2 linked regions of the Homo sapiens genome follow. The protein of the gene in region 2 purifies or fractionates together with the protein of the main gene of each other region. This does not show direct contact. Each region holds a gene or a part of one and is shown on either strand. Other genes may lie near its edges. The genes, in order: CLTCL1 and TTC9B.

Region 1 (3,806 bases), on a different chromosome or scaffold from region 2:
TATAGAGTCTTGTGCACTGGTGTTAAAATAAAGAAAACCTGTAATAGTGTAATTTGAGAGAAGTTCTGTAAAGCATTATATAAATGTAGTTAACTATCCCTGAACTAACCTACTCCTGGAATGTAAGTTCTGGAAGAGACCTTAGTGTCAACATTCTTCATAGGCCCTCATTTACAGAGCTCCCTCTTTAGGCTAGGAAAGGCTCTTTGGTAAGTTTCTTTTTCTTTTTCTTTTTCTTTTTTTTAAGATGGAGTCTTGTTCTGTTGCCCAGGCTGGAGTGCAGTGGCACAATCTCGGCTCACTGCAACCTCTGCCTCCAGGGTTCACGCCATTCTCCTGCCTCAGCCTCCCGAGTAGCTGGGACTACAGGCACCCACCACCACGTCCAGCTAATTTTTTATATTTTTAGTAGAGACAGGGTTTCACCGTGTTAGCAAGGATGGTCTCGATCTCCTGACCTTGTGATCCGCCTGCCTCGGCCTCCCAAAGTGCTGGGATTACAGGCGTGAGCCACCGCGCCCAGCGTGTTTCAAATATAAAATGTGTTTTTTATTTTATTTTCTTGAGACAGAGTCTCGCTCTGTCCACCAGGCTGGAGTGCAGTGGCATGATCTCAGCTCACTGCAGCCTCTGCCTCCCCGGTTCAAGCGATTCTCCTGGCTTCAGCCTCCTGAGTAGCTCGGACTACAGGTGCGTGCCACCATGCCTGGCTAATTTTTGTATTTTTAGTAGAGATGGGGTTTCACCATGTTGGCCAGGATGGTCTTAATCTCTTGACCTCGTGATCCGCCCACCTCAGCCTCCCAAAGTGCTGGGATTACAGGTGTGAGCCACTGCACCCAGCCCATTTATTTTTTTGAAACAGAGTTTCACTCTTGTTGCCCAGGCTGGAATGCAATGGCGTGGTCTTGGCTCACTGCAGCCTCCGCTTCCCGTGTTCAAGTGATTCTCCTGTTTCAGCCTCCCAGGTAGCTGGGATTATAGGTGCCCGCCACCACACCCAGCTGATTTTTGTATTTTTATAGAGATGGGGTTTCATTATGTTGGCCAGGCTGGTCTCCAACTCCTGACCTCAGGTGATCCACCCGCCTCGGCCTCCCAAAGTGCTGGTATTACAGGCGTGAGCAGCCACGCCAGGCCCTCAAAGTATGTTTTAAAAACTGTAGATGAACTAAATTTTACTGCCCTGAAACAAGTAATTTGTTTTACTATTTGTTTACCATCCATATGCTAGGCACAAGGATAAAGCAGTGAGTGAGACTGGGAAGGAGACAGATACAGAAAGAAAAAATATTGGTGTCCACATAGGTGTGAAAACATGGGGATGTTCAGTGCAACTTAAGCATTCTGGCTTCACTGATGTAGGCAGTTGATGTTCTCACTAATACTCTTGTACAAACACAGTTGTAGTCCTCCCAGGCAGACATCTTCCTTAAGCCCCTTATACATAGAAACCACAGGACTATCAGATGAGTAATTTCTTTTTGCATATTCCCCAGTGTCAGATTTTTTTTTTTTTTTTTTTTTGAGACAGGGTCTGTCTCTGTCACCCAGGCTGGAGTGCAGTGGCACAATCTTGGCTCATTCCAGCCTCTGCCTCCTGGTTTCAAGCGATTCTTGTTCCTCAGCCTCCTGAGTAGCTGGGACCACAGGCGTGTGCCACCATGCTCAGCTAAGTTTTTTATTTTTACTAGAGACAGGGCTTCACCATGTTGACCAGGCTGGTCTCGAATTCCTGACCTCCAGTGATCTACCCGCCTCGGCCTCCCAAAGTGCTGGGATTACAGGCATGAGCCACCATGTCTGGCCCCCATTGTCAGATTTGAATTTTGATTGATTTAATTGCAGGCTTTGAGAACTGAAAAGGATCATTAGACAGCATCTTCTTTACCTTTCTTTAGTTAAATCTTATATATGCCATTTAAAATGTGTAGCTAAGGTCCAGTGCAGTGGTGCATGCCTGTAATCTCAGCACTTTGGGAGGCCGAGGAAAGTGGATCACTTGAGACCAGGAGTTCAAGACCAGCCTGGCCAACATGGCAAAACCCTGTCTCTACTAAAAATACAAAAATTAGCCAGGTGCAGTGGCGGACACCTGTATTCCCAGCTACTTGGGAGGCTGAGGCATGAGAATCGGTTGAGTGTGGGAGGCAGACTTTGCAGTAAGCCAAGATTGCACCACTGCACTCCAGCCTTGGCGACAGAGCAAGACTCTGTCTCAAAAGAAAGAAAAAAAGAAAGAAAATTTTTTTAAAAATGTGTAGCTAGGTTACCTATCAGAATAATATACTAGGGATCAGGAATCCTTGGTTATTTCTACTAACTAGTGAAAAAAAAAACAAACCTGGGCCAGGCCCTGTGGCTCACGCCTATAATCCCAGCACTTTGGGAGGCCGAGGCGGGTGGATCACTTGAAGTCAGGAGTTTGAGACCAGTCTGGCCAATGTGGTGAAACCCCGTCTCTACTGAAAATATGAAAATTAGCCAGGCGTGGTAGTGGGCACTTGTAGTCCCAGCTACTTGGGAGGCTGAGGCTGGAGAATCACTTGAACTGGGGAGGCAGAGGTTGCAATGAGCCGAGATGGTGCCACCACTGCACTCCAGCCTGGGTGACAGAGTAAGACTCTGTCTAAAAAAAAAAAAAAAAGGAAAGAAAGAAAGAAAAAACCTGGCTTTTCAGCACATCACTTTTCTGGGACTTAGTTCCTGCGTATGGAGAAAAACTCACAGTAGTATCTGGCATCTTAGATGGAAAAGTTATTTTTGTGGGATTGTCCTGTATTGAGCATTCCTGGCTAAATGAGTAGAGAATGAGTTCCCCACTCATTGTACTATTAAAACTACCCTTGCCCATTTCTTTTTTTCTTTTTCTTTTTCTTTTTTTTTTTTTGAGACAGAGTCTCGCTCTGTCGCCCAGGCTGGAGTGCAGTGGAGTGATCCTGGCTTGCTGCAGCCTCCACCTCCTGGGTTCTCCTGCCTCGGCCTCCTGAGTAGCTGGGATTACAGGCACATGCCACCAGGCCTAGCTAATTTTTGTATTTTTAGTGGAGACGGGGTTTCACCATGTTGGCCAGGCTGGTCTTGAACTCCTGATCTCAAGTGATCCACCCGTCTTGGCCTCCCAAAGTGCTGGGATTACAAGCGTGACCCACTGCGCCCGAACCCATTGCCTATTTCTTTTTTTTTTTTTGAGACGGAGTCTTGGCTCTGTCGCCAGGCTGGAGTGCAGTGGCGCGATCTTGGCTCACTGCAGCCTCCGCCTCCTGGGTTGAAGCAATTCTCCTGCCTCAGCCTCCCGAGTAGCTGAGACTACAGGTGCACGCCACCATGCCTGGCTAATTTTTGTGTTTTTAGTAGAGACGGGGTTTCACCATATTGGCCAGGATGGTCTCCATCTCTTGACCTTATGATCTGCCCACCTCGACCTCCCAAAGTGCTAGGATTATAGGCGTGAGCCACCGTGCCCGGCCGCCCCTTTCCCATTTCTGAAGAATGCAGAATAGCACTCCTGGTTGAGAACTACTGTCTTAATTTAATCTGATTCTAATAGTCTTTATCTTATTTTTGGATCCACTCTTCTCAGTTGTTAAAACACTGTCTTATTTGTGAGGGACTTTTACCTTTTTCAAATGCCATACATGTGTATGTATGCTCTTAGATAAGGAACTTGACTCAGCTACTATTATTTAAGAACCCACTATGCTCAAGAGATTGGATACAAATTATTCAGGATTACCAATTCTTGGTATTTGGAGTTGAAATCAGAATGTCACCGTATTAACCCAACATCGATCCCCAAACTGAGA
Region 2 (4,418 bases):
TGGGGGGAGGGTGGGCAGGGATACTCAGGGACAGGGCATCATGGGGGATTTGGCACAAAATGGAGCATTAAAGGTAACCCCTGCCCCCTACCGCACTTGATTGTGTTCCTTTTTCCTTTTTTTTTTTTTTTTTTTTTTGGAGACAGAGTCTTGCTCTGTTGCCCAGGCTGGAGTGCAGTGGCACCATCTCAGCTCACTGCAACCTCCGCCTCCTGGGTTCAAGTGATTCTTCTGCCTCAGCCTCATGAGTAGCTGGGACTACAGGCTCCCGCCACCACACCCAGATAATTTTTGTATTTTTGGTAGAGACAGGGTTTCACCATGTCGACCAGGCTGCTCTCAAACTCCTGACCTCAAGTGATCCACCCATCTCGGCCTCCCAAAATGCTGGGATTACAGGCGTGAGCCACTGCGCCTGGCCTAGACTGTTTCTTTCCCTGGCCCAGGCCCTGATGCTGGGTCATCCCAGTGGAACATTCCCCCCGACCCCACACACCCTCCCTGGGCTTCTCTGGGTTTCTAAGGTCCAAGGGATGAGGCCCTCCCTGGTCCCCCCAAGAACACCACACAAGTTATGATCACCAGTGACAAGTGTTTTACCAACAAACACATGAGTCGGGGGAAGTTACATGGTGAGGTGGGAGGGCGAGGGATAGAGAGGTCCCCCTGGATTGGCCTCAGCCAATTACATCCCGAGTCTGGGACCCAGCCCCACTGTCTTCCCGCTGGAGGCTGCAACGATTCATCTTCAGCTGAGTCAGCTGGATGTAGCGGAGCACATTGGTGTCTGCAGGGGAGGTGGGCAGGGCATCATCTGGGTGTCCCGGGGCAGCAGGTGACTTCCACACCTCCCTGGCTCACACCCCATTCTCCGAAGTATCCAGCAGCTCGCTCACACAGCCAGTAGAGCCAGAGCCCTTCCCCAAAGCCCCAGTCACAGTCGGCAGTCCCCAGTCACAGCGGAGCCATCGCACACCTCTGTGCGCCTGTATTTGCGGCACCCTCTGCCAGGAATGCCTCTTCGCAGAGGCTCCCGTCACACTTCTCATCCTCCAGCGACATCTGCAAGAAGTCTGTTCTCTCCGAGCCACTTAACAGGAAAACTAATCTCGTCTCGGCTCCCACAACCCTGCACCTGTTGTAATCCCTCTTCCTTCTTCATTGGCTCTTAATACAAAACTGAGTGTTGTGTCTGCCCTCCTGCACTCATGTGTGTAAGTGCACACATGCACGCACACACACACACACCCCAATTTCCTGGCATCGTCCACCCGAGTGGATGAGTGGATGGTGCAGGAAGTGAATGAATAGGTGTGCGTGAATGGGTGAGTGGAGGAATGAGTGTGTGCGGTAGGCAGGGGTGGGACGGGGTAATGGAGATGACAGTGGGTGGATAGGGAAGTGACTGAGCAGGTGAATAGGAGATATCAGATGTGGCAATGACGGTAGATGAGAAATGGCCGGGGAGATGTCAGAGGAGCGATAGGTGGACGGATGTTTGAATGGCGGGTGAAGGGCGGGGTGGATGAATGGATGAGTGGGCGTGTAGGGAGTAGGTGGGTGGCGCAGCCCTACCTAGAAGCAGCTCCGCGGGAGGAGGGCTCTGCTATTCTGCCCTGATCTTCCTGCCTGTTCCCTCCGCTGCAGCCCCTTTCCCCGCCCTGGGCCCAGCCCTCACCTCTGCCCCGCCCCGCCACTCACCTGTGGGTTCCCGGCTGCGGGCCTCCTGCAGGTAGCGCAGCGCGCGTGCGTAGTCGCCCAGGTGGTAGAAGGCAATGCCGGCACGGTAGGTGGCCTTGAAGTTGCCCTGCTGCTTCTCCAGTACCTTGAGACAGTACTCGCGCACGCGCTCGTAGTTTACCAGCTCCGACTGCAGCAGGCAAGCTGCGAGGGCCCCGCGGCCGGCACTCTCAGAGCCTGCTGGCACCCCCAGAACCCACCTGACTGCGAGGAGCCGAGGCTCCAGGCGGCAGGGAACCAGGCCTAAGGGATTGCTCCGGCAACCAGGGGCGCCAATCCGCTCGCCTATCGAAACAGGCGCAACTGCGCCGCTGCTAGGGGGCGCCAAAACACGGACAGGCGCCACTGGGCGATCCACCCAGAGCTGTCGGTGGGCAAGAGCACTAAGGCCCCGCGCGGGGGCGAGGGCCGGGACCTCGAGAGCCTGGCTCAGGGCAGACTTCCTCACCTTGGGTCCACGTGCGGCCAGGGGGTGGAAAGAATGACTCAGGGGAAGCGAGGCCCTGAATACCCGACCCAAAGACCATTTCCTGCATCCCAGCTCCCTCCAGCCACAGACCCCTGTCATCCCCTACCCCTAATCCCTTTCCTTGATCAAGCTCTGAAGGCTCCCCCAGAAGCCCACAGCCCTGGACCCTTCAGCCCCAGGGCCCCTGGCCCCCAAGTCGCCAAGCTCTCCCGATTGCCCCCTCCCCTCGTGCCCCATCCCCCCACCCCCCGACGGCGTACCCGTGAGGGAGTCGTAACACTCCACCTCCGTGCTCTCCACCAGGCGCCGCTGCTCCTCGCTGAGGCGCGCCGGCCCGGGGCTGCTGGTGGGCCCGGGGGCGGGGGCGGGCAGGCCGCTAGGGCGGGCCCCCTGCGCCGCCTTCAGCTGCAGCAGCGCTCGGTGGTACTTGCCGATGGCCTCCCGGAACTTCTTCTCTCGATAGCAGCGCTGGCCCTCTGCCTTGAACGCCACGGCGGCACGCAGGCTGCTGTCGAGCGCCGCGCCCAGGCTCCCCGACGGCTCTGGGGTAGGACCGGGACGAGCCGAGCCATGGCGGGAGCCCGAGCCTGGGCCCGAGCCCGGTGGGGAGAGGGCGGGAGGCGGGCGCGGCGGAGGCTCCGGGGCAGCGCTGAGCATCAGCACCGGGGACAGCGCGCCGCGCTGCATTGTGGGAAACTCCTGCCGCCGCCGCTGCAGCTACCGCATCGCCCCCCGCGGGGCTGGTCCCCACCCTTTCTCCGCCCCCTCACCTCCGGCAGCCGACTCCGGCTGCCCCCTATGGGTCTAGGGAAACCCCTCGAGACTTCCCCCATGCTCACTCTCAAATTAACCAAGTCCTAGTTCTCCAGCCCGCCCCCCGAATTGTTCCCATTCCCCTTACCCTCCCCAACCTCCTGCCTGCTCTCCTCCCCGGTGCCCAAAGCTCCCGAAGATTTCTAGAAGGAAAGGACGAGCCTGGGGGAAAGAGCAGGAAGACATCAGCCTCACGGAAAGCTGGCTCTCAGCCCACTGGCCATTTGGCATATCGAATGAGAACACAGGATTTGGACCCAAGCTTCCCAAATTCAAATCCCTGCTTACTTTCTCACTAGTGGTATGACTTAGACAGCTCGCTTAAACTACCTGGAACTCTGTATCCTCATCAGTAACATGGCACAATAATATCACCTTTAGGGCCAGTCGAGGTGGCTCACGCCTGTAATCCCAGCACTTTGGGAGGTCGAGGTGGATGGATCGCTTGAGGTCAGAAGTTTGAGACCAGCCTGGCCAATATGGCAAAACTCCGTCTCTACTAATATACAATATATACAAAATTTTTGTATATATACACAAAAATTAGCCTGGTGTGGTGGCGTGCACCTGTAGTCCCAGCTACTCGGGAGACTGAGGCAGGAGAATCACTTGAACCTGGGAGGCAGAGGTTGCAGTGAGCCGAGATTGTGCCACTGCACTCCAGCCTGGGTGACAGAGGGAGATGCCGTCTCAAAAAAGGAAAGGAAAGGAAAGGAAAGGAAAGGAAAGGAAAGGAAAGGAAAGGAAAGGAAAGGAAAGGAAAGGGGAAAGGGGAAAGAGGAAAGAGAAAAAAGGAAAGGAAAGGAATTAAAAATAATACCACCTTTGGGATTCATCTGTTAATTTATGAAACAAATATTCACTGACATCCTTTCTGTGCCCAGCTCTGTGCTGGATGATGCTGGGACATAGCAGACACTGCGTGAGCTTCAGACCCTACTCTCACTGGGCCCCAGTTCAGTGGGAAGACAGACCAGTGACCAGACAGTGACAGCCCTGAGCAGGCTAGCCTGGGAAGCACAGGCAGAGGGGTCGGGGCCGAGGTGGAAGAGGCACAGGCAGAGGGGTCGGGGCTGGGATGTGGGAGGTACCTGCCCTGGGCTGAGGTGGTGATAAAGTCTTCCTGGAGGAGGGAATAACTCTAAAAACAAGAGAGATCTCCTTCTTGCCCTCATCCAGCTCGGCTGTCTATGGGGGAAAACAAGTGAGAGGGCAAACAAGTCCCCAGGAAAGGAAGCATGCAGGAGGCTTTCAAGAAAAAAATCGAGGATGAATGAGTCAACTGCCCTTCAGTCCTCCTTTGCCGCCTCCTTAGCTGTGGGACCTGGGCCAAGTTCCTCGATCCTCCTCCTTCGGCTTCGTCTGTGCGACATGAGGATAGAAGGCAAGTTAACCT

What was found.
Region 1: the proteins of TTC9B (region 2) and CLTCL1 purify together in Homo sapiens (affinity purification with mass spectrometry; 2 studies listed by BioGRID and IntAct, with this or other methods). This does not show direct contact.

Annotation. Positions count from the first base shown.
Region 1 is NC_000022.11:19,281,713-19,285,518, reverse strand, and holds part of CLTCL1 (clathrin heavy chain 2), read left to right. Parts: intron 1-3,806. UniProt on the Homo sapiens protein: Clathrin is the major protein of the polyhedral coat of coated pits and vesicles. Two different adapter protein complexes link the clathrin lattice either to the plasma membrane or to the trans-Golgi network.
Region 2 is NC_000019.10:40,215,486-40,219,903, forward strand, and holds TTC9B (tetratricopeptide repeat protein 9B), read right to left. Parts: upstream 2,900-4,418; 5' UTR 2,897-2,899; coding exon 2,470-2,896; intron 1,885-2,469; coding exon 1,702-1,884; intron 1,091-1,701; coding exon of another isoform or gene 858-1,090; exon of another isoform or gene 788-857; coding exon 678-787; 3' UTR 573-677; downstream 1-572.